4 linked regions of the Homo sapiens genome follow. The protein of the gene in region 1 interacts with the protein of each later gene in a biochemical or structural test. Each region holds a gene or a part of one and is shown in the gene's direction. Other genes may lie near its edges.

Region 1 (7,028 bases):
TGGCTGGCAGGTGGGAGGGCAGATACTGTGGGCCTCAGCTGTCTATAAATATGTAGCTGTATTAAGTAAGGGATGAGTGGGCTTCTAAGGGTCAGGTTATAAGATACCTTTTGAAATCAAGATGTGATCTCTGAGAATAACAAAGTTCCTATTTCCTATGGGATTTTAAAGTTGGGTGTGGATGGGAGAAATTTGCTTGAAATGAATGGCTATTAGCTTAATTCCTACACAGACAGAACAAAACATGACCAATGGCAGTTTAGCATATTCTGGACATCTTTGCAATTTTAGCAATATATTCTAATGGCAAAATAAAGCACTTTATAGTTTCACTAAAATGAGTGAAACATAAATGTCCCCATGCCTTTTGGCAGCATCCTATGCCATCTCTTTTTCCAATACATCCCCCTACCCCACTAATTTGGTCTTTGGTGCATGTCTGTTTCTTTCAAGGAATTTTGCTCCATACGTAAACTGCTTTGGATAGATTACACTCTTTTTAATTTTATTAAATCACTTTTGTTTCCAGCTTTTACTTGGCAGAAATCTCCATGGCTTTGGGGCATTTACATCAAAAGGGGATCATCTACAGAGACCTGAAGCCGGAGAATATCATGCTTAATCACCAAGGTGGAGACATACCGTAAACAATTCTATAGTAAATAATCATCTTAAAATCCTCCCACATAGGTCGTGGCCATTTTCAAAGCCCCAAATTCATCTCTCTATTTTGTATATTTCCTCCCTCAGAATTCATGGCATCATAGTACTTGCTGATATTTTAAGTCTTTAGGTAATTACGCTTGGTGAGAGTAAAAGAAGTTGAGGATAATAGTCGCTCAACTGCCTTTTTTAGTTTAATCCTTACTCTTTATAGTTTTTCATGTTTTTGGAATCTTTACATCAAATGTTGTATAATGTTTTAGACTGTAAAAGCCAGTCTAAACATTAATTTTGGCTTGTTACTTAAATTGAAAAGTGAATCTCAATTATATAAGTTGAGTTTTAATAATGAAAATATGTAAATATTGGCTGGGCACAGTGGCTGACACCTGTAATCCCAGCACTTTGGGAGGCTAAGGTGGGTGGATCACCTGAGGTCAGGAGTTCAAGACGCCTGGCCAACATGGTGAAACCCCATCTCTACAAAAATACAAAAAAAAAAAAAAATTAGCTGGGCATGATGGTGGGTGCCTGTAATCCCAGCTACTCAGGAGGCTGAGGTGGGAGAATCGCCTGAACCCAGGAGGCGAAAGTTGCAGTGAGCCAAGATCGCGACATTATACTCCAGCCTGAGTGAAAAGAGCGAGACTCCGTCTCAAAAAAAAAGAAAATATGTGAATATTAGAAGCTATGCTTCTTACAGTAGGTTTTATTAATGCTGGGAAAAGGATTGAAATTGAACCAAAGTATTTGATAAAACTTTGGAAATATGATGTTTAGTAGGCATCAGGTTACTTTTTTTTTTTTTTTTTTGAGATGGGGGTCTCACTCTGTCATCCAGGCTAGAGTATGGTGGCATGATTACAGCTCACTGCAACCTCCGCCTCCCAGGCTCAAGTGATCCTTCCACCCCGGCCCCTCAAGTAGCTGGGGCCACTGTGGCACACCACCACGCCTGACTAATTTTTGGTATTTTTTGTAGAAATGGGGTTTCATCATGTTGCCCAGGGTGGTCTCAAACTCCTGAGCTCAATTGATCTGCCTGCCTTGGCCTCCCAAATTGCTGGGATTACAGGCATAACCCACCTTCCCCCCAGCCAGAATCAGTTTATTCTTGCTGTTTGTTTGTAACAACAAACATAAACATCAGAGAGACTGATAATCTATACAACTATAGATATAGCACAGTGAGCCTTGACTACAACTGCATGCTGCTAAAGACAGCTCAATTTATGCTAATCTGGGCTGTAGGTAGACTTGGCAATTCACTCGTACCCCAAAGGAGCAACCAGCTGACCCAGGGTATCTAGAAGGTGGTAGCAGCTGCTAATCCTTAGATGTCTACAGAATAATCCATGAGGTAGTTAATTGTTTCAAACTCTTAGAAAATGATGTATGAACAACTGAGGCTCATATAAACATTCCAGATTATACTCCTCCACCCACCTTTTTTTTTTTTTTAAGGAGAAATGATATACTTAACTGAATATATCATGGGAATCAGTGTCTCTTCCTTCCTCTCATCAACACCTCCTCACTCCCCAAAACGTGGATTCTGATCTGAATTATAAGTCACAGGATAGAATAGGGGAGCGATAGAATAGTTAACTTCTTTGATTTATAAGGTTGAGTGTATCAGATGGTTCTGTGAAAATAAAGGCCATACTTCTTCTGTATCAGAGTGTAGTATATATTTACATTTGAATCAATAGGTCATTGTGCCTTTTCTGTGAAATGAACCTCAAATACTAGAGTCCCTGAGATTGTTGAACCACTTGTTATGACAGTCCAGTAAAGAAAGCTAAACTTGAACTGAAATGATCTTTGTGTAAGGTGGTAAGTTTTTTACTTTCTGGATCAGTGATGATTGATTCATACTATCTAGCAATTTTCTTTCTTTCCCCTAATTGGTAGCATTGGGCAGAATGAGCTACCTTGTTATAATGAGTTTCTGAGACCATTTTAAGGACTCTTCACAGTTCACTGTGATAAAAGCTATATATTTGAAGTACTGTCTCACACCTTTGTTCAAAAGGTACAGAGTATGTTTATTGGGGTCTGTGTACGTAAACTAGACTTCATAAAACAGTTTTCCCAGGATTTTTCTTTTTCAGGATGGTAGAGAATTTTGTATATACTTAAAGCTAGAGCCTTAAACAGGTTATTTCACTTTTTTCTCTATCTTTATTTTCTCTTTACTAGATAGATTGTATCATTGGCAAAAGGTGACTTTGCCCTAGCCTTAAACAGTTAGCATCCCATTTTATGGATGGTACCTTGTTCTTGACATCTGCAAGAAAATTTGAGGCAAGAAAAGTTAAATGGAAGGATAGATTAAAGTATTATGTGACATGTTCAAACACTGCACATACTTATAATTCGGAGAATAATCATGCTGTAATCTTTCATTGTAGGTCATGTGAAACTAACAGACTTTGGACTATGCAAAGAATCTATTCATGATGGAACAGTCACACACACATTTTGTGGAACAATAGAATACATGTGAGCTACATGTTAAACATAATTGGTTTGGGGGTAATAGCTAATTTTACCTGTTTTAAGGAATAGTATCTGTTTTCTGTACCCTCATTGACTCTGTATATTGTTTTTAAAATTCTAATTCAGATGATATGCAAATGGGTGAATTTTTAAGCATATTATTTTCCTCATTGTAGGGCCCCTGAAATCTTGATGAGAAGTGGCCACAATCGTGCTGTGGATTGGTGGAGTTTGGGAGCATTAATGTATGACATGCTGACTGGAGCAGTAGGTGCACAGTTAAAAGCTGCATGTATTATTGGTCTGTGCTGAGTCACTATAGCAAGAGACCTGTCCTGTGCTTTCTGAACATGTTACCAGTGGAGTTTTCAAAGCCCAAAGATTTGTTATTAGCAGTTTAACACTAATAATGCTGTATGATTATATGGGATCCCATACTTTCCGAAACATTTTCTTTTAAATGATCTATGTCATGGCAGGCCTGTGAAATAGATGTTGAATAGATAATGCCCTTATTTTATAAATGGAGAAATTGAAGCATAAAATCACATAGCTCACTTATCACACAGAAAGTTAATGGTGGAAACACAGGCTTCCTTCCAGGACACTGCTACTTCCTCTGTCCTGTTGCTTAAAAACTGCACGTCTGCCGGCCACAGTGGTGCATGCCTGTAGCCTAAGCTACTCAGGAGGCTGAGGTGGGAGGATCATTTGAGCTAAGGATTATTAATAGAATCTAGCCTTGACAACATAGTTGAGACCCTGTCTGTAAAACAAAATAAAGGTCTTTAGCAGTTAGCCCATTTCACAGCATACATTTCTGATCTCCATGTATAACTAATTTAGGAAATGGATAATATTATTCAAAATTTGTTTCTTATATGCTAATATTTTTCTCTCCCTGCTAATATTTTTCACTTGTCTTCTACTCTTAGCCCCCATTCACTGGGGAGAATAGAAAGAAAACAATTGACAAAATCCTCAAATGTAAACTCAATTTGCCTCCCTACCTCACACAAGAAGCCAGAGATCTGCTTAAAAAGGTAAGGTTCTTAAATGGTCACTGACACTACAAGATTCAATGACTAGGATTTAACTAGATAGAATTTAATGTATATTTTGAATAAAGAGTCATATATAAATATTGAACAAAAAAGTCTTCAATTTTTGAAGGCGAAGTACAGATTTGTTTAAAGACTTTCTTTTCATATTCTTTTTTTAAATTTTTTTTTTTTGAGACAGGGTCTTGCCCTGTCACCCAGGCTAGAGTGCAGTGGTGCGATCTTGGCTCACTGCAACCTCAGTCTCCCAGGTTCAAGCGATTCTTCCGCCTCAGCCTCTCAAGTAGCTGGGATTACAGGCACCCGCCACCACGCCCGGCTAATTTTTGTATTTTTAGTAGAGACAGGGTTTCACCGTGTTGGTCAGTCTGGTCTGGAACTCCTGACCTCAGGTGATCCACCTGCCCTGGCCTCCCAAAGTGCTAAGTGCTGGGATTACAGACCCTTAAACAATATTAAGTAGTAATTAGTAAACTATATTTTCTTTTCTTTTCTTTTCTTTTTTTTCTGAGATGGAGTCTTGCTCTGTCGTCCAGGCTGGAGTGCAATGGCATGATCTTGGCTCTCACTGCAACCTCCACCTCCCAGGTTCAAGTGATTCTCCTGCCTCAGTCTCCCTAGTAGCTGGGATTACAGGTGTTCACCACCACGCCAGGCTAATTTTTGTATTTTTAGTAGAGAAGGGGTTTCACCATGTTGGCCAACCTCGAACTCCCAACCTCAGGTGATCCACCTGCCTCAGCCTCCCAAAGTGCTGGGATTACAGGCATGAGCCACTGTGCCTGGCCAATAAACTATATTTTCTCAAGCCAAAGTAGACAAGCACAGTCTAAAAAGGAAAAAAAAAAATCAGTTTGACTAAGGTTCTTTATCCAAGCTTTTTTTCCTCTTTAAAGCTGCTGAAAAGAAATGCTGCTTCTCGTCTGGGAGCTGGTCCTGGGGACGCTGGAGAAGTTCAAGTAGGGATTGGCATCTTTGGTGTTTTGTGGGGAAGATAATGCTAGTTTTATGTATTTCTGAGGGTTATATGTAGTTGCTTATAAGTTTAGCTTATTTTGTGACTTGTAACTTCAAAAAGGTGATTAATTTATCAATCCAGCAAAGTCTAGTCCCCTCAACTTTTCTTCCTGCTTTTTTTTTCCTAGGCTCATCCATTCTTTAGACACATTAACTGGGAAGAACTTCTGGCTCGAAAGGTGGAGCCCCCCTTTAAACCTCTGTTGGTAAGTATACATGAAAGTGTATAATTGGGTGCAGTGGCTCACGCCTGTAATCCCCAAACTTTAAAGGGCCAAGGTGGGAGGATTGTTTGAGGCCAGGAGTTCAAGACCAGCATGGGCAACATAACAAGACTCCATATCTACAAAACATTTAAAAGTTAGCTGGGTGTGGCGGCTTGTGCCTGTAAGTCCCAGCTACTTGCAAGGCTGAGGCAGGAGGATCGCTTGATATTTTTTTAGAATAAGAAAAATCTCAGAGCAGACAGAAACATTATTTTTATTAGCAGTTCAAAGATCTCTGGTCTATCCTCTCCAGCATCTTTATTTTATTTTATTTTGAGATGGGGTCTCACTCTGTCACCCAGGATGGAGTGCAGCAGCACGATCACAGTTCAATGCAGCCTTGACCTCCCCAGGCTCAGGTGATTCTCCCACCTCAGCTTCCCAAATAGCTACGACTACAGACACGTGTCACCATGCCTAGCTAATTTTTTTGTATTTTTTATAGAAATAGGGTTTTGCCATGTCACCCAGACTGGTCTTGAACTCCTGGGCTCAAGTGATCCACCCACCTCAGCCTCTCAAAGTGCTGGGATTACAGGTGTGAGCTTCTGCACCCAGCCAAGCATCTTTTATTTTTGTACTATCTTGTAAAGAACTAAACCCAGTGGCAATTGACTGTATTAGCTATTTTTAAGTCAGTTACCTAAGACAAATATTTCAGGTAGTTGGGACTTTCCTTTTTTTGGTTTGTTTTATTTTGCTTAATTTAACCATTTTAAATATGATTCTCTGGGAATTTTTTCTTCAAAGTATAGAATATGTGTGCATTCGTTTGCTAGGCTTGCTGCAACAAAGTACCACAAACCGGGTGGCTTAGACAACAGAAATTTATTATCTCATAGATCTGGAGACTAGAAGTTCTAGATCACATTGTTAGAGTTGGTTTCTTTGACTACTGTGAGAAACTGTATGTTCCATGCCTCTCCCCTGGCTTCTGGTGGTTTGCTGGTAATCTTTGTCATTCTTTGGCTTGTAGGTGCATCACCCGGATCTCTGCCTTCATGTTCACATGGTGTTCTACCTGTGTGCATATCTGTGGCCAAATTTCCCCTTTTTATAAGGATACCAGGCATATTGGATTAGGGTTCCTCTCTACTCCAGTAGGACCTCATCTTCACTAATTACATCTGCAATAACCCTTTCCAAATAAGGTCACATTCTGAGGAACTAGAGGTTAGAATTTCAATGTACGAAATTTTTTGGGGGTGGGTAAGGCACACGATTCAACCCATAACAATATGTTTGTGAGTAAATCAGTTAGTGTGTTAGTTATTGTCCTTCTCCCACCTCAGAATCTGAGAAAATACAGTTTCTTTTTCCATTCCTTAGGATGTAGTTGGAGAAGGAGGAGGATGATGATGGTGATTATTTTTTGGTCATGGAGCATAATGTCCCCACTTTAAAAAACAACAAACAATTGTAAGGAAGTTAACTGTCATATACCTACTGCCCAGCTTAAAAAATGATTAGGTCATCTTGTTTAAACATAACTGCCATCCCATCATCACACCTCAGAAGT
Region 2 (7,028 bases), about 14 Mb from region 1:
TTGCGCGGATGACGGTGGGGTGCTGAACCAGCCGGTGCGCCTCTGGAAATGTCTGGGCACGGATCCTGGGGCCATCGACGACTCCTCCCCATTCCCAGCAGGCGGGAGCTCTTACATTCCGAGCGAGTGACCCCTCTCACCCTCTGGCGCTCACACACCTGTAACTCCAAACCTCCGTCTCAGAATGGTCCAGGCTGGAAGGGATGATGGGGGCTCCGACAGCGACTGCCTAGCTCACCCCTCTGCGTGCTCAGGCTCCAGGCTCAGCAGGACCAATTTGAGTTCTATCTGATCCCCCTCGGCCCCTTAACTGACCCATCCTACAGGAGACAGGGAAATGTCTTTCCTACCGCGGTTGATTCTGGGGTGTCATTTTGTGTTTTGTGATGGCTGCTTATATTTACTGTATAAGCATTGTATTTACTGTATAAGCATTGTATTATAATTACTGTATAAGCTGCTTATATTTACTGTATAAGCATCTCCAAATCCTCCCTCTACGTAAACAAATTAATGGATAAACAGATAAGTGTATCCCCTGCCCCCACCCCTGCTACGCAGGTCCGGAGTGACTCTTGAAGCTCATACATTCCTTGGCCAAGTTTGCTTCTCTAACAGATGTTTATATAGCAATAACCTGGCTTGGCTCTTGGGTTCACCTTTGGACGATTTGGGGAAGGGGCTTGTTGGCTTTGCTGGGTTTTGGATGAGTGACAGTCCATGACTGTTCCTGCTGGAAGGGCGTGACTTTTAAGTGGTTTCTAATATCAGGCATTGCTCCTCCGACAGGAACAAAAGAAATGGATACTGCCCATAAATTGTTAGAAAACTTAGAATCGCTTTGATTGAGGAAAGGTTAGATTTATTCCGGTTGGAAAAAGTGGCCTTTCTATTAAACGTGCCCTTTGACCCTCATGCCCTTGGAGGTCGGTGCCAGCCTGGAGATGGGATAAGATTGTGGTTTTCCTTCTGCCTTTTTAACATCTGTTGTTACAGTCCATTTGTTGAAAATTTAAAGAAACTGTTTTATTCCACTTTCCCTCAGCATTTATGTGTGTGGTTTCAGTAGCTCTGTGGCTATATGTACGAACACGTGTTATTTTTCCAATTGGACATGTGATAATTTTCCAACTGGACCTTGCCTTCTATTGATGTATTTATTTAGCATCTTCCTTACTCCCTCCTTGAAAAAGAATCACTCAAAAACAAATAAAAACAGCCGTAGGGGCCTAATACAGTGCTAGACATACAAGAGGTATTCGGTCCATACCAAATGGATTTTATCCATGAAGGATAAATGGGGAAATACAGTGGGAAGCAGGTGGGAAACTGCGTTTGACTCTGCTCTTTCCTCCACCACCACTTTCCTCATCACCGTGTTCAGAGACCCCCAAAGCCCCCTCACACTCCCAGAAACACCCCCCTGGCCACTCCTAACTTGCCATGCCCAGGAGTTAGGTGCTTCCACTAGTGACATGGAGCTGGCGTTTGGGGGGCACCTCAGCAGGTGACGGGAAGAGAAGACCCCAGCCTCACCAGCTGGGCTGCAGCAGGGAGAGGAGTCCTCATGTTCCAGCAGGGACTCTCAGCTGTTTTCCTGTAAAACCATGGTTCTCAACTGGGGGCCACTGAGATGTCTAGAGAGATGTTTTTGTTTTCACAACTCGGGGAGGGTGCTACTGACATCTTGTGGGTAGAGGCCAGGAATGCTGTTAAACATCCTACAAGGAAGGCACAGGACAGTCTCCTACATCAAAATATGACCCAGTCCCAATGTCACCACTGCTGGGGTTGACACTGGCACTGCTATCTTAATTACATTCATTGAGTGTCTTTTAGGAGGCCCTATTCTAAGTGCTTGCTAAGATTATCTCATTTAATCCTCACAACACTTCCGCTATGTAGCAGGTGCTGTTATTATCTCCGTGATGGGGAAACTGAAGCACAGAGAGGGTTAGTAACTTGCTAAAGGTCACAGAGCCAGTGGGTGGTGGAGCTGGTTGCCTGACACTAGTTCCCTCCCCTCTCAGCCACATGTGGGTTTACTTGGCCATTGTGGACTAGTCTGGGAACCCAGATATGATCTATAACATTGACCCAGTAGAATATTGATTCCAAAACCACTGTCTCACAAATGAATTTTTACAAGAGTCTGTAATCGGAGCATGACCCAGAATAAGGTTAGGGAGATGTGGAGTTAAAGCTCTCAATTTCTTATCTGGCCCCGACACAGAGAGCAAGGCATTTCACTCTACATTGGTGCTCTGTTTATAAAACAAAGAGCAAATATCTCTTCCTAAGGTCCTTAAACCTCTTCCCCCAATCCAGGGTTTCTGGACTGCTCTGCCATATGACGGGGCAGCTGGTTTGATTGACCCAGGGAAGGCTGGAAATCAAGACTGGGGGATCAAGACGTAGATTCAGTGTGGCCAAGGTCAAGTCTCTGAGGTTTAGGGACATCAGATCCCCAGCTTAGGTTCTGTACCTCGGCAAGGTGAAAGCGTTGGCGCCCACTGATGAGGCCTGCTCTGAGATTGTGGGTGTGGGTTGAGTTGGGTGGGCATAGGCAAGTCCTCTTGTAAGAATCTTTTGGCAAAGATGGGCCTGGGAGGCTTTTCTCACTTCCTGGGGCCCAGGCTTTGCAATAAGTATTCCATTATACTGTGGTACCTTGGGGCTACCTGAGAATCCTCTGTCTCGCCCCTGTTGCCTTGCCAAAGAGTTTGCTGTCCAAGAATTCCTTTCCTGTCTCCAGGTGCCATGCTCCTGCCACCTCTGCCAGGTTCCCTGCCTGCCCAGATGGCTCCCAACTGAGTGTGAGGAGGAATTTGAGACAGGTTTTGAGCTTTCTGGGTTCTCCAGTTAGGAAACTTTCTGTAAGCATGCAGATAGAATGGGCTTCAGCAAAATACAAACTCGAACAACTTCCATGTATAGTCCCTTAATTTTCTTTGCTTTTTTCATATTTCATCAGGCTCCATGCTGAGCCCAATCAGGGACCCGATAGAAATCCAAACACCATGTCAGCGAGTCCCCAAGAAATGCATTTTGTGCCAAGGCTATTCAAGGAAGGTTTGGGAGCAGCTCAAGGGCAGACACTGTTACCCTCCCCCAGGTCCCCAGTGCAGGGCAGTGTTCTGCATGTGGAGGCAGTTTGGCCTAATGGTTAAGGAGGTAGGCTCTGATCGGGCCTCCTGGGCACAAATCCCAGCTCCCTGCTCACTGTGAGACCTAAGCCATATTGTTTAGCTGCTTGGAGAGTTTTTTGTCATCCACAACTTGGAGTATGATGGTACCTGTCTCACGGGTTGCCATGGGGTTCACACAAGCTAACCCGGTACTCACTAGGGCCAAGCACATAGTAACTGCTCAGTAAATGGCATCATCGGCGGTGTCCTGTGGATGAGTGCTTGTGATTGGCTGAATGACCAGAGGGGTCTAAAGATCCTGGTGATGGAATCAGTTGTACAGATAAATTGTTACACTGAGTAGGGATCAAGATAGGAAAAGTCGGCAACTACCCAGCTCCCCTGCACCAAACTGGGCAGAAGTGGATCCTCTGAAAATTGCACACACCCATGTTTAAATGTACACACAGAACTCTTGCCACAGGCAAGCGGAGATTTGTCATCTGCTGTCCCTGCCTCATCTTCTTCCTGAAATCCACTCCATGCCAGGAATAAACTGCATGCTCTCCACCAGCCCAAACTGACCTGCCTTCCCGCCAGCCATCCCGGGCAGGGTGACCTGGCTTAGTACATCGGGTTCAGAGATCTTTCCAGTTTACTCGTTGAATAAAAAGTGAGGGCTGATCGAGAAAGTAATGGCAGTCAGGGAAGGCGAAGGAGGTAAAGAAGAGATTTTACAAATGAAGTAATTCAACAGAGTGCTGACATTGGTAAACTGGCAAACAGATTTCAGGGTGGTTGGTTGAGAGTAGAGTAGAAAAGGATTAAATAAAGCAAACTTGTGGTGTACTGAATCTTAGGAATTCCATGTATCCAATAAGTATAGTCATTTATGAATTAATAAATTCGGCCTAAGAAGCCTTCTTATCGCTTAAATCAAGACTAAGTAACAATATATCAGTTTTAAAAAGTCATTATATCAGAAAATCATTTAAATGATACACATAGATTTCCAAGATTTTACTTTAACCGAAACTATATAAATGTGAATTTGTTCACCCATCTTTTGACACAGGGCTCAGGTCTTCTCTTGGTGTCTGGATCAGCCAGTTGAAATTTCTTGTCTGTTTTGCCTATGCCACATTAATAATGCACTGTCTGGGTCCTCCGATTTCAGTTTGGATTTTGGGTTTACATTGTGGAGTCATCTGAATGCAGAATCCTTCAGGGATTTTACTTTTTTTTTTTTTTTTCATGGTCTTTACCATCCCATTTGATAGTAAATATTACTCACCTTTATGAAGTCTTTCCAAAACATTCAACTAAATTTTCTTAAAATCATTGAATGATTTGAAGAGCTTATTCCTCAGCACTTTTACTCCATCAGCTTGCACCTTATTTTTTAATCTTTTTTTGAGACGGAGTCTCGCTCTATCGCCCAGGCTTAAGTGCAATGGCGCGATCTTGGCTCACTGCGACCTCCACCTCCTGGGTTCAAGCAATTCCGCCTCAGCCTCCGCCGTAGCCGGGACTACAGGTACACACCATAATGCTCGGCTGATTTTTGTATTTTTGTAGGGATGGGGTATCGCCATGTTGGCCAGGCTGGTCCCGAACTTCTGACCCAAGTGATCCACCCACCTCGGCCTCCCAAAGTGCTGGGATTACAGGTGTGAGCCACCGCGCCCGGCCAGCTTGCACCTTATTTAGGATATGTGATTATTATAGCAAGTCTGGTGTACATACAAGATTTTGAATGGGCACAGATGACCTTTAGTAAGTGCTTGGCTGTGATAAGAGGCAGTCCTGACTGCAGATCAGGCTGTGTGGACCCCAGCCTTGCATGTTTACAGACCTTCATGTCTTATTCTTACAGGGTATCAGAAGAACACCTACTGGGGAAACTTATAAATTAGTAAAAGGTGGGCATTCTCCCCGCCCATCTTCTGTCTGTCTGCCAGGACTAGCACAGCACTTTGAAGTCATTCACATAGAATCCCAACTTAAGAGGGTAAAATCCTCCTCAACAGACTGAAAATAAGTTTAAATTCCCTTTGCTATATTAACTCCCCTGAGGAAAGAGTCTTAGATCAATGTCCAACACTAAAAACAGTTTTAAATCAGCAAGTGAGAATTAAATCTGAAGCAATTGATAATAATGTTTCATTCATTCCTCTCCTTTGGCCCCGTCCACCCTACTGCTAAATCCAGGCATCAAAGAGAAGAGGGACATAATTATCTCTAGTCCCAGCTGCTGGTTTTCCTTCCAGCCTATGGCCCAGTTTTCTGTTTTACTGAGAAGGCTGGTGATGTTATCTTGGGATCTAAGTCTGCAGTTTCACCACAAAAAGTCCAGGGATGCACTTTCATGCTTGTGTCCTCCTCCCTGGGATAGCAAGGATATTAGAAGACCCCTGGCTCTGTAATTGCTTGTCATGTGCTCTACAGACGCCACAGAATGCCAAGAACGAAGTGCTGGGAAGGACAAATTCATGGAACCGTGGGACGGTGCTCCTCCCCCAGCGTAAAGGACAGCTCCTCCTCCTGAATTGGAGCCAGCGTTCTAAATCATGTGTCAACAGAGTTGTCCTGGATCGGATCCAGTTCTGCCATTGATTTGCAGGTCATTTCAGTGGTACCTGTTTCCAGTTGTTCTTAATTGAACAGTGGCACCAAACTATTGTCTTGCCTCATCCCCCTCCCATGGCCTGTCCCCCAAAAAGAGACTTCTTGGGTAATTAATCAGGGCAACATCAGGCAGTCTGGGCGCGGTGGCTCACGCCTGTAATCCCAGCACTTTGGGAGGCCGAGGCGGGCAGATCATGAGGTTAGGAGATTGAGACCATCCTGGCTTTGTGAAACCCCGTCTCTACTAAAAATACAAAAAATTAGCCGGGCGTGGTGGCGGGCGCCTGTAGTCCCAGCTACTCGAGAGGCTGAGGCAGGGGAATGGCGTGAACCCGGGAGGTGGAGGTTGCAGTGAGCCGAGATCGCACCACTGCACTCTAGCCTGGGCGACAGAGCTAGACTTCTTCTCAAAAAAAAAAAAAAAAAGGAATCTCTTTGGTTTTATATATATTTTTTTTATATATATAATATATATTAAAATATAATATATATATTTATATAATATAATATATAAATATATTATATATTATATATTTTATATATTATATATTATATATATTATATATTATATATTTATATATTTATATATTATATATATTTATATATTATATATTTATATATATTATATATTTATATATAATATATATTATATATTATATATTATATATTATATATTATATATTTATATATATTATATATTATATATATTATATATTATATATTTATATATTATATATTTATATATATTATATATTATATATTATATATTTATATATTATATATTTATATATTATATATATTTATATATATTATATATTATATATTATATATGTATATATTATATATGTTATATATTATATATATTTATATATATAATATATTGTATATATTATATATCTAATATATTATATATATTATATATATTATATATTATAATATATATTATATATTATATATTATATATATTTTTATATATATAATATGTATAATATATAATATATATAAAAACATATATAATATATATTATATATTATATATATATTATATATATTATATATATTAAATATATTTTATATATATTATATATATATACACATATATATATATAAATGAGGCCAGGCTCGGTGGCTCACACTTGTAATCCCAGCACTGTGGGAGGATCACTTGAAGCCAGGAGTCTGAGACTAGCCTGGGCAACAAAACAAGATCCTGTCTCTACAAAAGGAAACTGTAAAAATTAGCTGGGCATGATGGCATGTGTCTGTAGCCCTA
Region 3 (7,028 bases), on another chromosome or scaffold:
ATTACAGGCACGTGCCACCACGCCCAGCTAATTTTTGTATTTTTAGTAGAGACAGGGTTTCACCATGTTGGCCAGGATGATCTCGGTCTCCTGAACTCGTGATCCACCCACCTTGGCCTCCCAAAGTGCTGGGATTACAGACGTGAGCCACCGTGCCCGACCAGAGTCTTAAGGTAGTAGCAGTATTCTTTTTTTGGCTGGGGGCAGGTGGGGGCAATGTATTTGGGCTTGTGCCCTGAATCGTGGACTCCACAACTTCTTGATTTTGAGAAAGCCAGTCAAAACTGCACTGAAATACAGATGCTAAATTTAGGATTTATGTTAGTATATCTTCAAGGATATTATAAGAAAAAATGTCTGCAATTTGTTGATGACTGGGTATTTATGTATATTGCCTTTAATCCCTTCAACAACCTTGCACAGTGGGTATGATTCTCTCCATTTTATTCATTGTTATTATTTTTATTTACTTTTTGTTTTTGAAATGGAATCTTGCTCTGTTGCCCAGGCTGGAGTGCAATGGCATGATCTTGGCTCACTGCAACCTCTGCCTCCTGGGTTCAAGTGATTCTCCTGCCTCAGCCTCCAGAGTAGCTGGGATTACAGGCACCTGCCACCATGCCTGGCTAATTTTTGTATTTTTAGTAGAAATAGAGGTTTCACCATGTTGGCCAGGCTGGTCTCAAGCTCCTGACCTCAGGTGATCCTCCCACCTTGGCTTCCCAAAGTGCTGGGATTACAGGCATGAGCCACCACTCCTGGCCTACTTATTTTTTTGAGACAGGTTCTTACTCTGTCACCCAGGTTGGAGTGCAGTGGTGATCACAGCTCAGCTCACTGCAACCTCCACCTCCCTGGCTCAGGTGATCCTCCCACCTCGGCCTCCTGAGTAGCTGGGACCACAAGTGCATGCCACACCCAGCTAATTTTTGTATTTTTTAGCAGAGATGGGGTTTTTCCATGTTGCCTACGCTGGCCTCAAACTCCGGAGGTCAAGGTATTTGCCCACCTGGGCCTCTCAAAGTGCAGGGATTATGGGCATGAGCCATTGTGTCTAGCCTGTTTATTATTTTTTAAATTAATTTATTTTCTTTTTAGAGACAGGGTCTCCATCACCCAGGCTAGAGTGCAGTAGTGTGATCATGGCTCACTGCAGTCTTGACCTCCTGGGGTCAAGAGATTCTCCTGCTAAGGCAGCTGCCTCCCGAGCAGCTGGGACCACAGCCATGCGCCACCATACCTGACCAATTCTTTTATTTTTTTGTAGAGATGGGGGTCTCACTTTTTTGCCCAGGCAGGTTGTGAACTCCTGGGCTCAAGCAGTCCTCTCACCTTGGCTTCACAAAGTGTTGGTATTACAGACATGAGCCACCGCACCTGGCAGGTTAACTCTGTACAGATGAGGATGCTGAGGCACATAAAGGTTAAATCTTTTGCGTAAGACAGTACCATTGATAGTGGAGTTGGGATTCAAACCCCCATTTGTCCATCTCTGCTATACCGTGCTATAGTCAGAATGATGAAATATATGAAAGGATATATGTATTTTTAATAAACTGTGTTTATTGAAGGGTATCTTTTTATAAATTACAAAAGTTAAAATGTTTATTTTTCTGTTTTAAAACAATTAGAAGTTTTTGGAATTGTGTAGAAAAAGTGTGATCTCTTCCCAAAGATAAGTAGAGATGTTAAGGGTATACACTCATGGAGCCACCTATATACAGCCTTCATTAATGTTACTGATTTAAAAGTGTTGTTCTTTTAAGCACTGTATGCTTCAAACAAATGAGTTGCCCAGAGTTAAGTCTTAAATGGAAAAGGTTTAGCTGCAGGGCATTTCCCAGTTATGATTCATGGAGATTCAAGTTTTCTTTTTGTAAGCATTATAGCGTATGGGAGAAGTTGATCTAATCGCAATTTAAAAAAGCAAAATATGACTGCTATATATATGATAATCAGATGCTATCTAGTCCAAGTATGGAATAGTTATAAGTGTGGATTAAATGGGAAGCATTTGTTTAGTAATTATGATGGGATATAATGGAGAAAATATAATATTCCATGGAAGATTTTTCCTGTTTTTAAAAAATTCTTCATTAGAAGTAGAATATGCTGCTTTTTGAAGCTTATCAGTCATGAGGTCTGATCGGTGCCTGTTGTAGGTACTCAAATATCTCTTGGATGGAGAGCGTAGTTGTTCTTGCCAATTAAGAGGAAATTAAGGGTTAAAGCAAAGCAGCAGCTGCTATCAGAATCCCTTAACTTTGGAATGCAGTAAGACATATTGCTTGTCAGAAACAGCTTTCCAAACCAACAGATGGAATTACAGGTTTTTAAAGCACTTCCATTGCTCCTAGATGCCTGCTAAGTTAGGACAGTTGCAGATAAAGTGCTTACAGCCAAGTGGAGCAGATCCCTTACACTGTCGAAGAAAGTAATTCAGTGGTAGCAAGTTATTTTTAGCTCTGGCCCCGCAGTGCCATTGTACTTGCCTGCAAGACCATCAGAAAATCATTTGGCCTTCTCTATTTTGCTCATTCCTTAACAGATGCTTTGATACTTCGAATTGTTAGATAAATTTAAAATGTACATTTTTATGACTTTTGTGTTTTTTGTTCAGTTTAAAAGAACCATGTAGATTATAGGCTTTCAATAAATACTTGTTAGTTGGACATAAATATGTAAAATTAAGGTTTTAAAGCACAGATATTTAAGATACAGTCTTAGAGCAAGAGAGGCTGTCCTCCTTTTACTGATAATAAGACAAATTAAGTCATTTGCCCAAGATCACATAGTTACTGGTGACAGATCTCAGCATAATCAGTATATATACTGTAATGTACAGTGGTAAATTAAAAAAAAATTAAAAGCCATTTTAGAATGTAGAACTCGGAAAATCTTAAAATTCTTAAATTTGACCTTTGCTTTTAGGAGAAAATGTGCACCTTCTACCATTCATTCCCAGCACTTTGCTTGAATGTGCATGGGTGTAAAAATTATACTTCAACCATAATTTATAGCAGTATTCTAAATTAAAAATTATAAAATGCTAAAAATAGCTTTTGAGCTAATTTTCATGATATTGAACTTTCAGAATATAAAAGAACAAACTTATCCTATTGATCTGCATTTTAGGTATATCCAGAGTCTTCAGGAGCTTCTTGATTTTAAGGACAAAAGTGCTGAGGATGCTAAAGCTATTTATGAGTAAGTTCACTATTTTGACCCTATTCTTAAACCTATTATTAGGTCACTTGGGGGAAATTGGTTAACTTTTAGGTTTCTACTACTTTAGAACATGTGATATATGTGACTGTAGCAGCCCATACAGGCAGGACAAATAACAATCAGCAAATTTGACTAGGCATAAGAAATGCTTCGTGTTCCTCTTTAACAAAAGACAAAGTTCAGGTGTGATGATCAGTGGAAATGTAGGTGTGGCCTCAGTGCCAGTTGGACTGTTCACCTGGAGGGTGCATGCTCCTTCTAATGGACAACCACCTTCAGCCCCAGCTGATCTTTGCCATATGAAAATACTGCCCATATCATCTGATTGTTTTCTGATTTTAAAGGAAAGCTACAAGTCTAGATTTGTAATGTAAAATCTCTCACTTTTGAAAGATTGGTAACTAATTAAAACATTTTTTAAAACACAGAAGGCCTAGAAGAACATGGTTGCAGGTCTCTAGTTTATGCTGTATGGCCTGCAAGATGATGTAAGTAATATGACAATGTTAATAACCCATATACCAGAATTGGTAAACCAAAGTATTTGCCTTATGCAGCTACCTGCTTATTGCAGTGAAGGGTACTGAGAGTGTAATGACCATCTCTTGTCCTCAGTTAGTTACACATGTTTTTTGGACTGTCTTTAAAGTGAACAGTAACACTTCATTTTTTTAAACATGATTTTAATCTGAAAATAACTTCAGCAAGAGTTTACTCCTTGCTTAGGTATTGAGCAGACTTTACATGAATGATGTTTTTTAATCTTTAAAACAATTCATTGAAATAATGCTGTTTGTGCACAAAGAGGGTAAGTAGTTTAAGGTTACATAGTTAGCAAATGGTAGAATCCAAGCAGTCTTACTTTAAAAGTAAACATTATGTTATAGAGCCTTCTGAAAACAGTCATTCAGAGCTGTGGAAAATAAGTAGTCAAGCAGAATAATACAGATTTGTGTTTCTTTGAAGCAGAAAGAAAATAATAAAGGAGTGACTAGAATGATGAGTTGTTTGTTGTTTTTGAAGAGTTTTGTTGTTTGTATTTTAGTTTAACAGTCTTGTTTTGAAGCGCATTACTAACTAGGAATTCCAAAAATGTTTTAAGCAGTGGAAACATCATTGGAATAAGTTAATAGTACTCAGGATGATGACTTTGAATAGGAAAGCACTCATTTGGAAGTGTAAATTCAGATGGGTTATGTTAGAAAATTGGTTTCGTTACTGCATAATTAAGACTTCTTGGGCCGGGCACGGTGGCTCACGCCTGTAATCCCAGCACTTTGGGAGGCCGAGGCGGGCGGATCGTCTGAGGTCGGGAGTTCGAGACCAGCCTGACCAACATGGAGAAACCCTGTCTCTACTAAAAATACAAAATTAGCCAGGCATCATGGTACATGCCTATAATCCCGGCTACTCAGGAAGGCTGAGGCAGTAGAATCACTTGAACTCGGGAGGTGGAGGTTGCAGTGAGCCGAGATTGCGCCATTGCTCTCCAGCCTGGGCAACAAGAGCAAAATTCCATCTCAAAAAAAAAAAAGACTTATTTTCTCTTTTATTTAGTTATTTAACCATGCAGTGTCTTCTAAGTGACAGAGATGGGAAGACTAGATGATTTGAAGATTTGTCTTTTAATATAATTGTTTACTTTTCCTCTCCCATTTTATAAACTCATAGGATGAGTGAAATGAGAATTCTTTTCTGTTTTTCTGTCCTAAGTGTTTCCTTCTCTCTTTGAACCCTAGGGAATAGGTCCAAAACAGGCAGGCTTTATTGGCTCATTCATCTTGATTCCTTGCAGAGCAGAGCAGGTGTTCTCTAGAGGCAAGTGCTTTGTCTCCTCCTATGCAGAATGTCTCTGGAATACCATCCTCTTAGCCAGTGCTCAGATGACCTTAGTTGATAACAGTTAAAACCATTAACATTTTTTGGATTACGTTTTGTGGCAGCCTTACTCTTAGGAAGCCAAGAAAAGAATTAAATCTTGAAAGTTTTATTTTGGAGGTCTGTATACTTTCATAGATTTGGTATATTTTATGATCTGAAATACATTTAAATAAGTATAGGAAAACATGAACCGATTTTCCTTTTATTAAATTGGGGATTTTTTGTCTAGCATAGTTGGTTAAGCTTATATTTTTGTATTAAGTTTACTTGTCAAAATATTTGGCTGTTTTGACAGATGGGTTTGTTTAGCTTTACAGATACTGTGATACGGATCAGAAACCGACACAATGATGTCATTCCCACAATGGCCCAGGGTGTGATTGAATACAAGGAGAGCTTTGGGGTGGATCCTGTCACCAGCCAGAATGTTCAGTACTTTTTGGATCGATTCTACATGAGTCGCATTTCAATTAGAATGTTACTCAATCAGCACTGTAAGTGTCCCTCATGAGTCAAGAGAAGAAGCTAAATGAGATGTGTTGGCATATTTTAAATTTATTTAGGAAAGTTCCATTTAGGTAGGAAATTTAGTTTTACCTTTTGGCTAATTAAGAAAAATAAATAGACTGCCATCAAGAAAGGTGTTTTTATTGAATGTAAAATACTATGTTTATCCTAAAGGAAAATATTTGTTCTGTTTGGTACAATTTAAACAGTATTCAGATTTGGAAAAGAGCATTAGGTGGTTTAGCTTATTTTGTTGGTTTTTTTCCTTTTTGGATAGCTTTATTGTTTGGTGGAAAAGGCAAAGGAAGTCCATCTCATCGAAAACACATTGGAAGCATAAATCCAAACTGCAATGTACTTGAAGTTATTAAAGGTAAATACTGACATTTCTCCTTGCAAAAAAAGATACAAAAATCAAAATTATTGTTATTTCTTACTATTAAAACATCTATTTGTATCATGAGATAAAATGGTAGGCACAAATGCATGGGTTTGAAAATAACCTTATAGTATTATTTGTGCATTATGTATAGGATGACTATTTTATTGATAGAATTATTTGTTAGGCAAAGTTTGGTGATACTATAGAGGATATCTTTTTTGTTTTGTTTTGTTTTGTTTGAGACAGAGTCTCACTCTGTTGCCCAGGCTGGAGTGCAGTGGTGTGATCTCAGCTCACTGCAGCCTCTGCCTCCTGAGTTCAAGCGATTGTCTTGCCTCAGCCTCCCCAGTAGCCGGGATTACAGATGCTCAACACTACGCCTGGCTAATTTTTGTATCTTTAGTGCAGGCAGGGTTTTACCATGTTGGCCAGGCTGGTCTGGAACTCCTGCCTGCCTGCCTGCCTGCCTCGGCCTCCCAAAGAGCTGGGATTACAGGCGTGAGCCACCGAGCCCAGCTGAGGGTATCTTTCACTTAAAAAAGAATTGAAGTCCCTACTGCCCTGTTTCTAATTCTTACACTATGAGCAGTAATTCATAACAATTTGGTTTGAATCATTTCACACTTTTTTCTATTTATACCACTTGTACACATACACAATTGATGTTGGTCTTACATTGTTGTTTTTAGAAAATGGGGTGCTCTATGTTTTTTTCTACAAGTTTACAGACATCTTGCTGTTCAGTACATCTGGATATGCTCCAAGGTTTTGAATGGCTCTATGGAATGTATCAGTATGTGTTAATTAATTCTCCTGTTCATGCACACTTAGGTTGTTTTAATTTTTTTCTGTTACCACCAATACCAGCAGTACTGCTGTGAACATCCTTAAATACACGCTCACTTTTGCTAGTATTTTAGAGGTGAGATTCCTAGAATTAAAAACATTTAAATGCATATAAAATTTTGGTATCTCCAAAAAGGTTTCAAACAATGGATAAGAGTGTTTCCTAACCAACTCTTAAGTTTTG
Region 4 (7,028 bases), about 21 Mb from region 1:
AAATGGCAGCTGACATTTGGCACAGTGTGTGTGACAGTTTCTGGAGGGTGGGAACAGGGGCTCCCTGATGCCATAACTGAAGGGGCAACTGGGCTATGGCCAGGCCTCTCTCTTTGTCTTTGAGAAGTCAGCAAACTTTTTTTTTCTTTTATTGTAAATATTCATACTAATTCAGATTTATTACCAAACACACTGTAGTCCAACACTGCAGGCTGAACAACCCCATTTGTGGAGTGTTTTTCTGTTTCTTTTTTTTTTTTTTTTTTTTTGAGACAGGGTCTTGCTCTGTCATCCAGGCTGGAGTACAGTGGTGAGATCACACGGCTCACTGCAGCCTCGACCTCCTGGGCCTGAGTGATCCTCTCACCTCAGCCTCCCCAGTAGCTGAGACTATAAGTGTGCGCCAGTGTGTCTGGGGTTGGGGAGTCTCACTGTGTTGCCCAGGCTGGTCTTGAACTCCTGGGATCAAGCAATCCTCCTGCCTTGTCCTCCAAAAATGCTAGGATTACAGGCATCAGCCAACACGCTCAGCCTGGGGTGGTTTTTTTTTTTTTTTTTTTTTTTTTTTGAGATGGAGTTTCATTCTTGTTGCCCAGGCTGGAGTGCAGTGGTGTGGTCTTGACTCACTGCAACCTCCGCCTCCCAGGATCAAGCTATTCTCCTGCCTCAGCCTCCCAAGTAGCTGGGATTACAGGCGCCTGGCTAGTTTTTTTTGTATTTTTAGTGGAGATGGGGTTTCACCATGTTGGCCAGGCTGGTCCTGAACTCCTGACCTCGGGTCGTTCACCTGCCTCAGCCTCCCAAAGTGCTGGGATTACAGGTGTGAGCCACAGCACCTGGCCCTGGGGTGTTTTTTGACCAGTGGGTTACCTACGTAAGAATCTCTGTTACCCAGGCCTCCAGGCCACACAGTCCCACTGTGCTGGACGTAGCCTCCAGTCTGGTGGAGCAGCATGTTTGTAAAGTGAAATGTGTGGGCGTGGTTGTTCTGTGCTAGGAGCTACATCAACTACTTCCTGGTGGCCACTGACTGTCCTAAATGCAAGCTGAGATTTTGCTTCTTCTTGTGGTTAATGTGCAATTCCATACGCTTTTATTTTGTACATATATTCATTAGTTCTTACTGGCTCCTATTTAGTAGCCTTGCTACAGATTCCTCAAATTGACATCTTTACCAAAGTTGACTGACTGATGACTCCCAAGAAGTTTTTTTTGCCACCCAACACTTGGCATCCTTCCAGAGCTACAGCCCTTGCCCGCTCTCAGTTGGGATTCCTGCCATCTTTGTTTTGAATCAGTCTTGGTTTTCAAATGCCACTTTTACCACATTTTAATTTCTAAGTTACTGTTACTTTAAAATTATTATCAAGTTAGTTTGTTGTTTGGTTAATTCTACTATGTATAGTGAATGAGGCATATATGTATCCATAGTGTTTTTAGCTTGCAATTTTCAAATAACTAGACATATATGAATTGTAGTTCAAAATGAATCATTCACAGACCTTTGGCTAAAACAGATACGTATATATCTCCCCTATTTGTGTTTTTGGCTCACTGCAACCTCCGCCTCTTGGGTTCAAGCGATTCTCCTGCCGCAGCCTCCCGAGTAGCTGGGATTACAGGTGCCCACCACCATGCCTGGCCAATTTTTTTCATATTTTTATTAGAGACGGGGTTTCACTATGTTGGCCAGGCTGGTCTCAAACTCCTGACCTCAGGTGATCCACCTGCCTCGGCCTCCCAAAGTGCTGGGATTACAGGTGTGAGCCACCGTGCCTGGTCTAACTGTGATACTTTATAGTTATCACAGAGTTCATTTTCCTACTGGAAAGTGGACAGTGGGGATAACTGGTCTCAGATGACTCTTTTGCCTGGAATATGTGGGATGGAATGACGGGTGCTTGAGAGCTATTGCTCTGAAAGTGTTGACAGACATGCTATGTCTACACACATGTAGACTGACAGACACTCTGTCTACATGCATGTAGCACCCCTGGCAGACACATTCTGTGTACACATGTGTGGTGTCATTGTCAGACACTATTTCCATGCATGTGTAGGACCACTGACAGGCATCCTATGTCTACATGTGTAGGGGATGAAACGGTTAGATGAAGAAGGCTATTTTGTAAACCATTCTCTAGACTCAGTTGCATTGCTCTGTAGCCATACTTTGCCCAGGTCATGGAGGAAGCAGAGTAGATCTGTTCAACTAATACATGGACTGCCAAAGGTTTATGCGGTCTTTTCAGCAAGGGTAATAGCAATCCTTCATAATCTACACTACCCCCTCTGCTTTCCTCACCTTGCGTCCTCTCCACATTCCAACTGTGCCCTGTTCCACTCCCCTGAGACTGGTCTCCATATGGCCCCAGTTTGTTGCTAAATCTAAAGTTCTCTTCTCTGTCCTTCTCTGTTCTTATTTCACCTCTCAGCAGCATTCCACAATGTGGACCATGGCCTCTTCATAAAGCTCTTTCCTCACTTGCTTCTGTGTCTCCACGAAACTCGGATTTTCCTCTTAGGTCACTAGTTGTTCCTTCTCAGACTCCTTTGCTACCTGACACCTAAATGCAGGGGCACCCCAGGAATTGATCTTGGACCCCATTCTCTGTTCTGGGTGTGCCCCTCCCTAGCAGATCTCATCGGGGCCCATGATTTTAAATAGTGTCTACATGCCAGTGATGCTTAAACCCCCAATCTTTAGTTCTGATCTGGCCTGAAATTTCTGTCTCAGATGCCTACTGCCTGCTTTTTCTTAGTTTTCTCCATCACCGCTTGCCACAACCACCATCCACTCAGTTGTTCAAGCTGTAAGTTTAGAGTTTATCCTTAATTCTTTCCTCTCCCTCTCTTTATCGCCCCATCCAATTCATTAGAACCCATCAGCGTTACTTCCAAAGCATGTCTTACATTGGCCTGCTTCATTTTGTCTCCACTGATGCAGCCCCAGTCCAGGCAGCCACCGTCTCTTGTCTGGACACTGCATTTGTGTCCTGACTGGTCTCCCTATGTCCATTCTTGCCCTACAACCAGTTTTTCACATAGCAGTCAGAGGGATCTTTTATTTATTTTGAAATGGAGTCTCTCCTTGTTTCTCAGGCTGGAGTGCAATGGCGTGATCTCGGCTCACTGCAACCTCCACCTCCCGAGTTCAAGAGATTCTCGTGCCTCAGTCTCCCGAGTAGCTGGGACTACCAGTGCATGACACCATGCCCGGCTGATTTTTTGTATTTTTAGTAGAGATGCGGTTTCACCATGTTGGCCAGGCTGGTCTTGAACTCCTGAGCTCAAGTGATCCTCCCACCTCAGCCTCCCAGAGTGCTGGATTACAGGCGTGAGCCATCACACCTGGCCAGAGGGATTTTTTGAAAGTGTGAAGGGGTGGGTTGCCCCTCCACACCTGTGGGTGTTTCTTGTTAGGTGGGACGAGAGACTTGGAAAAGAAAAAGAAACAGAGACAAAGTATAGAGAGAGAAATAAGGGGACCCAGGGAACCAGCGTTCAGCATATGGAGGATCCCGCCAGCCTCAGAGTTCCCTTAGTATTTATTGATCATTCGTGGGTGTTTCTCCGAGAGGGGGATGTGTCAGGGTCACAAGACAATAGTGGGGAGAGGGTCAGCAGACAAACACGTGAACAAGGGTCTTTGCATCATAGACAAGGTAAAGGATTAAGTGCTGTGCTTTTAGATATGCATACACATAAATATCTCAATGCTTTACAAAGCAGTATTGCTGCCCGCATGTCCCACCTCCAGCCCTAAGGCAGTTTTTCCCTATCTCAGTAGATGGAACGTACAATCGGGTTTTATACCGAGACATTCCATTGCCCAGGGACGGGCAGGAGACAGATGCCTTCCTCTTGTCTCAACTGCAAGAGGCATGCCTTCCTCTTCTACTAATCCTCCTCAGCACAGACCCTTTACGGGTGTCGGGCTGGGGGACGGTCAGGTCTTTCCCTTCCCACGAGGCCATATTTCAGACTATCACATGGGGAGAAACCTTGGACAATACCTGGCTTTCCTAGGCAGAGGTCCCTGTGGCCTTCCGCAGTGTTTGTGTCCCTGGGTACTTGAGATTAGGGAGTGATGATGACTCTTAAGGAGCATGCTGCCTTCAAGCATCTGTTTAACAAAGCACATCTTGCACCGCCCTTAATCCATTTAACCCTGAGTTTGACACAGCACATGTTTCAGAGAGCACGGGGTTGGGGGTAAGGTCATAGATTAACAGAATCTCAAGGCAGAAGAATTTGTCTTAGTACAGAATAAAATGGAGTCTCCTATGTCTACTTCTTTCTATACAGACACAGTAACAATCTGATCTCTCTTGCTTTTCCCCACAAAAGTGTGAATCAGATTCTGTTACTTCCTTACTGGTGGTCTCCATTGGCTTCCTCTGTGCTTAAAGTAGAACTCAGACTCCTCTTGCTGGTTCACAAAGCCTTCATGATTTGGCCTCTGCCTGCCTTTTCTGCTTCTTGGATAGAAACTCCTGGAATGCTTTTCTCTCTGATCTTTGCACACCTGGCCCCTTCTCGTCGTTCATACTTAGCATCTAGGTCCCTTCCTCAGAGAGGCCCACCATCACCCCATCTGAAGCAGCCACCCTGTCACTCATAAACCCTCCTGATGGCTATTTATTTCTCTGATATTTTTCTCCCTACTTCCTCCTGGAGATGTGAGCTTTTCATCATAAAGCAAGGACCTAGTCTAGTCTATGCTAGTCCATAGGGCAGTGCTTGGCACATAGTAGGGATTCAACAAAACTATACTGATACAAAATGGATAGTTTACAAAAGGCTTCCACATACATTATCTTTAAGGCTCAACAGCACCATAAATTACCTAGGGATCATTCTCTCCGTGTTACTGATGAGGTAACTGACGTTTTAGTTGAATGGCTTACCTAAAGTTACATAAGTAACATGGCTAGCAGTGAGAGGAAGTGGAACCTGTGCAGAGGGAGAAACAAAGTTTAGTTCAAAACAAAACAAAACAAAACTGTATCATAATGTCTCCACTGAAACATTTATGTTAAGAGGTCAGGGGGTTGAAAATAGCAGACCAGCAGACCAACATTCAGCAGACAGAGAAGGATGCTCAGTCTGCTCACAGCATGTGCCCTGTGCACTGGGGCTTCTCCTAGACCCTTGCAGGGATCCACAAGGTCAAAACTGTTTTCATAATAATGGAACACCATTGGCCTTTTCCACTCTGTTGATACCTGCACTGACAGTGCAAAAGTGATGAATCAAGACAGCGGTGCCAAGCTGTACTACTAGTTCCTGATTTCTTTGCCATGCACATGGAGAGAATGTCCTTGCTAATAAAGCAGTGAAAATGATGACTTTTACTAAATCTTGACTGTTAAGCACACATCTTTTTCAGACTGTGTGTGCTGCTCCTTCTCCTGCAGGCAAAGCCCAGTGGCTGCCTGGAGGAGGAGCATCTGCTGCCTTCATGGACGCAGCACGTCCCAAAGGAATCACCGACAGGCCGCCTCTGGATGTTGAGGCCTGTGTCCACGGCAGACGTGTTTTTGAAAATGAACTTAGTGAGCTGTCACTTCAAGGAATACAGCTGACAGTATTTGCTGCCAGTCATGAAATTTGAACCTTCAAGTGAAAATTGGTTTTGGAAAACTTGTATCTGCCGCTGTGAGCCTGGCAGCTTCCCAAGACTTAAAGATGTTTCTGGTGAGATCCATAGTGATATTAATGAATGGAATTAATGTTGTAGAATGAAATGTGCCCACATTTGGAACAGCTGCATAATTCAGTGAACAAATATTTCCAGATGACCAATCCATGATATTATAAAATCATCCATAGGTAAAAGATCCGTTCAATGTTAGACCAGTGGATTTTAATGTAATAGGGTACAAAAAGTTCACCAGAGGATAGGTGTTTTTTTTTCTTTTTTTTTAAGACGGAATCTTGCTCTGTTGCCCAGGTTGGAGTGCAGTGGCGCGATCTCGGCTCACTGCAACCTCCGCCTCCCAGGTTCAAGCAATTCTCCTGCCTCAGCCTCCTGAGTAGTTGGGATTACATGTGCCTGCTACCACGCCTGGCTAATTTTCATATTTTTAGTAGAGATGGGGTTTTGCCATATTGGCCAGGCTGGTCTCGAACTCCTGACTTCAGGTGATCCACCTGCCTTGGCCTCCTAAAGTGCTGGGATTACAGGGGTCAGCCACCACACCCCGCTTGATGTTCTGTTGTGTGCGTGTGTGTATATTTTTTGTTGTTATTTGTTTGTTTCACAGTTCACTGCATCCTTGACCTGGGCTCAAGTGATCCTCCTGCCTCAGCCTCCTGAGTCGCTGGGACTACAGGTGTGAGTCACCATGCCTAGATTTTTTTTTTGGATTTTTTGTAGGGATGGGGTCTCACTATGTTGCCTATAGTGAGAGTTTAAATATTTTATTCAAATAGATTGCAACAGATCTTTAAGAAACTACCACTTACTCAATTTTGTTGTAATATCAAATAATAATATTCTCAATTATTTGGATATTCTGATACTCCTGCCATTATGTATCTTTGTGAGGCCAGATTTTTCTCACATACTTCAACCAAAACAGTGTATTTCAACCCATTGAATGTGGCACCAAAAATGAGAATCCAAGGTGGGGTGCGGTGGCTCACACCTGTAATCCCAGCACTTTGGGAGACTGAGGCGGGCAGATCATGAGGTCAGGAGATCAAGACCATCCTGGCTAACACGATGAAACCCCATCTCTACTAAAAAATACCAAAAATTAGCCGGGCGAGGTGACGGGCGCCTGTAGTCCCAGCTACTTGGGAGGCTGAGGCAGGAGAATGGCGTGAACCCGGGAGGCAGAGCTTGCAGTGAGCTGAGATTGCGCCACTGCACTCCAGCCTGGGTGACAGAGTGAGACTCTGTCTCAAAACAAAACAAAACAAAACAAAACAAACAACAACAACAACAAAAAAAATGAGAATCCAGTTGTCTTCTATGAAGCTGGATATTAAAGAGATTTGCAAAAATCTAAAAAAAGCCA

Evidence for each region.
Region 2: of the proteins of RPS6KB1 (region 1) and MAPT, one has a biochemical effect on the other in vitro, tested with the Homo sapiens proteins (2 studies listed by BioGRID and IntAct).
Region 3: the proteins of RPS6KB1 (region 1) and PDK1 form a complex in vitro, tested with the Homo sapiens proteins (2 studies listed by BioGRID and IntAct, with this or other methods).
Region 4: of the proteins of RPS6KB1 (region 1) and RPTOR, one has a biochemical effect on the other in vitro, tested with the Homo sapiens proteins (6 studies listed by BioGRID and IntAct, with this or other methods).

The regions. Positions count from the first base shown.
Region 1 is NC_000017.11:59,931,093-59,938,120, forward strand, and holds part of RPS6KB1 (ribosomal protein S6 kinase beta-1), read left to right. Parts: intron 1-529; coding exon 530-630; intron 631-3,077; coding exon 3,078-3,168; intron 3,169-3,341; coding exon 3,342-3,432; exon of another isoform or gene 3,433-3,436; intron 3,437-4,100; coding exon 4,101-4,208; intron 4,209-5,122; coding exon 5,123-5,185; intron 5,186-5,371; coding exon 5,372-5,449; intron 5,450-6,485; coding exon of another isoform or gene 6,486-6,534; exon of another isoform or gene 6,535-6,682; intron 6,683-7,028. UniProt on the Homo sapiens protein: Serine/threonine-protein kinase that acts downstream of mTOR signaling in response to growth factors and nutrients to promote cell proliferation, cell growth and cell cycle progression.
Region 2 is NC_000017.11:45,897,550-45,904,577, forward strand, and holds part of MAPT (microtubule-associated protein tau), read left to right. Parts: exon of another isoform or gene 1-1,249; intron 1,250-7,028. UniProt on the Homo sapiens protein: Promotes microtubule assembly and stability, and might be involved in the establishment and maintenance of neuronal polarity.
Region 3 is NC_000002.12:172,559,085-172,566,112, forward strand, and holds part of PDK1 ([Pyruvate dehydrogenase (acetyl-transferring)] kinase isozyme 1, mitochondrial isoform 2 precursor), read left to right. Parts: intron 1-3,135; coding exon 3,136-3,207; intron 3,208-3,656; coding exon of another isoform or gene 3,657-3,716; intron 3,717-5,026; exon of another isoform or gene 5,027-5,046; intron 5,047-5,418; coding exon 5,419-5,603; intron 5,604-5,893; coding exon 5,894-5,989; intron 5,990-7,028. UniProt on the Homo sapiens protein: Kinase that plays a key role in regulation of glucose and fatty acid metabolism and homeostasis via phosphorylation of the pyruvate dehydrogenase subunits PDHA1 and PDHA2.
Region 4 is NC_000017.11:80,547,831-80,554,858, forward strand, and holds part of RPTOR (regulatory-associated protein of mTOR), read left to right. Parts: intron 1-7,028. UniProt on the Homo sapiens protein: Component of the mechanistic target of rapamycin complex 1 (mTORC1), an evolutionarily conserved central nutrient sensor that stimulates anabolic reactions and macromolecule biosynthesis to promote cellular biomass generation and growth.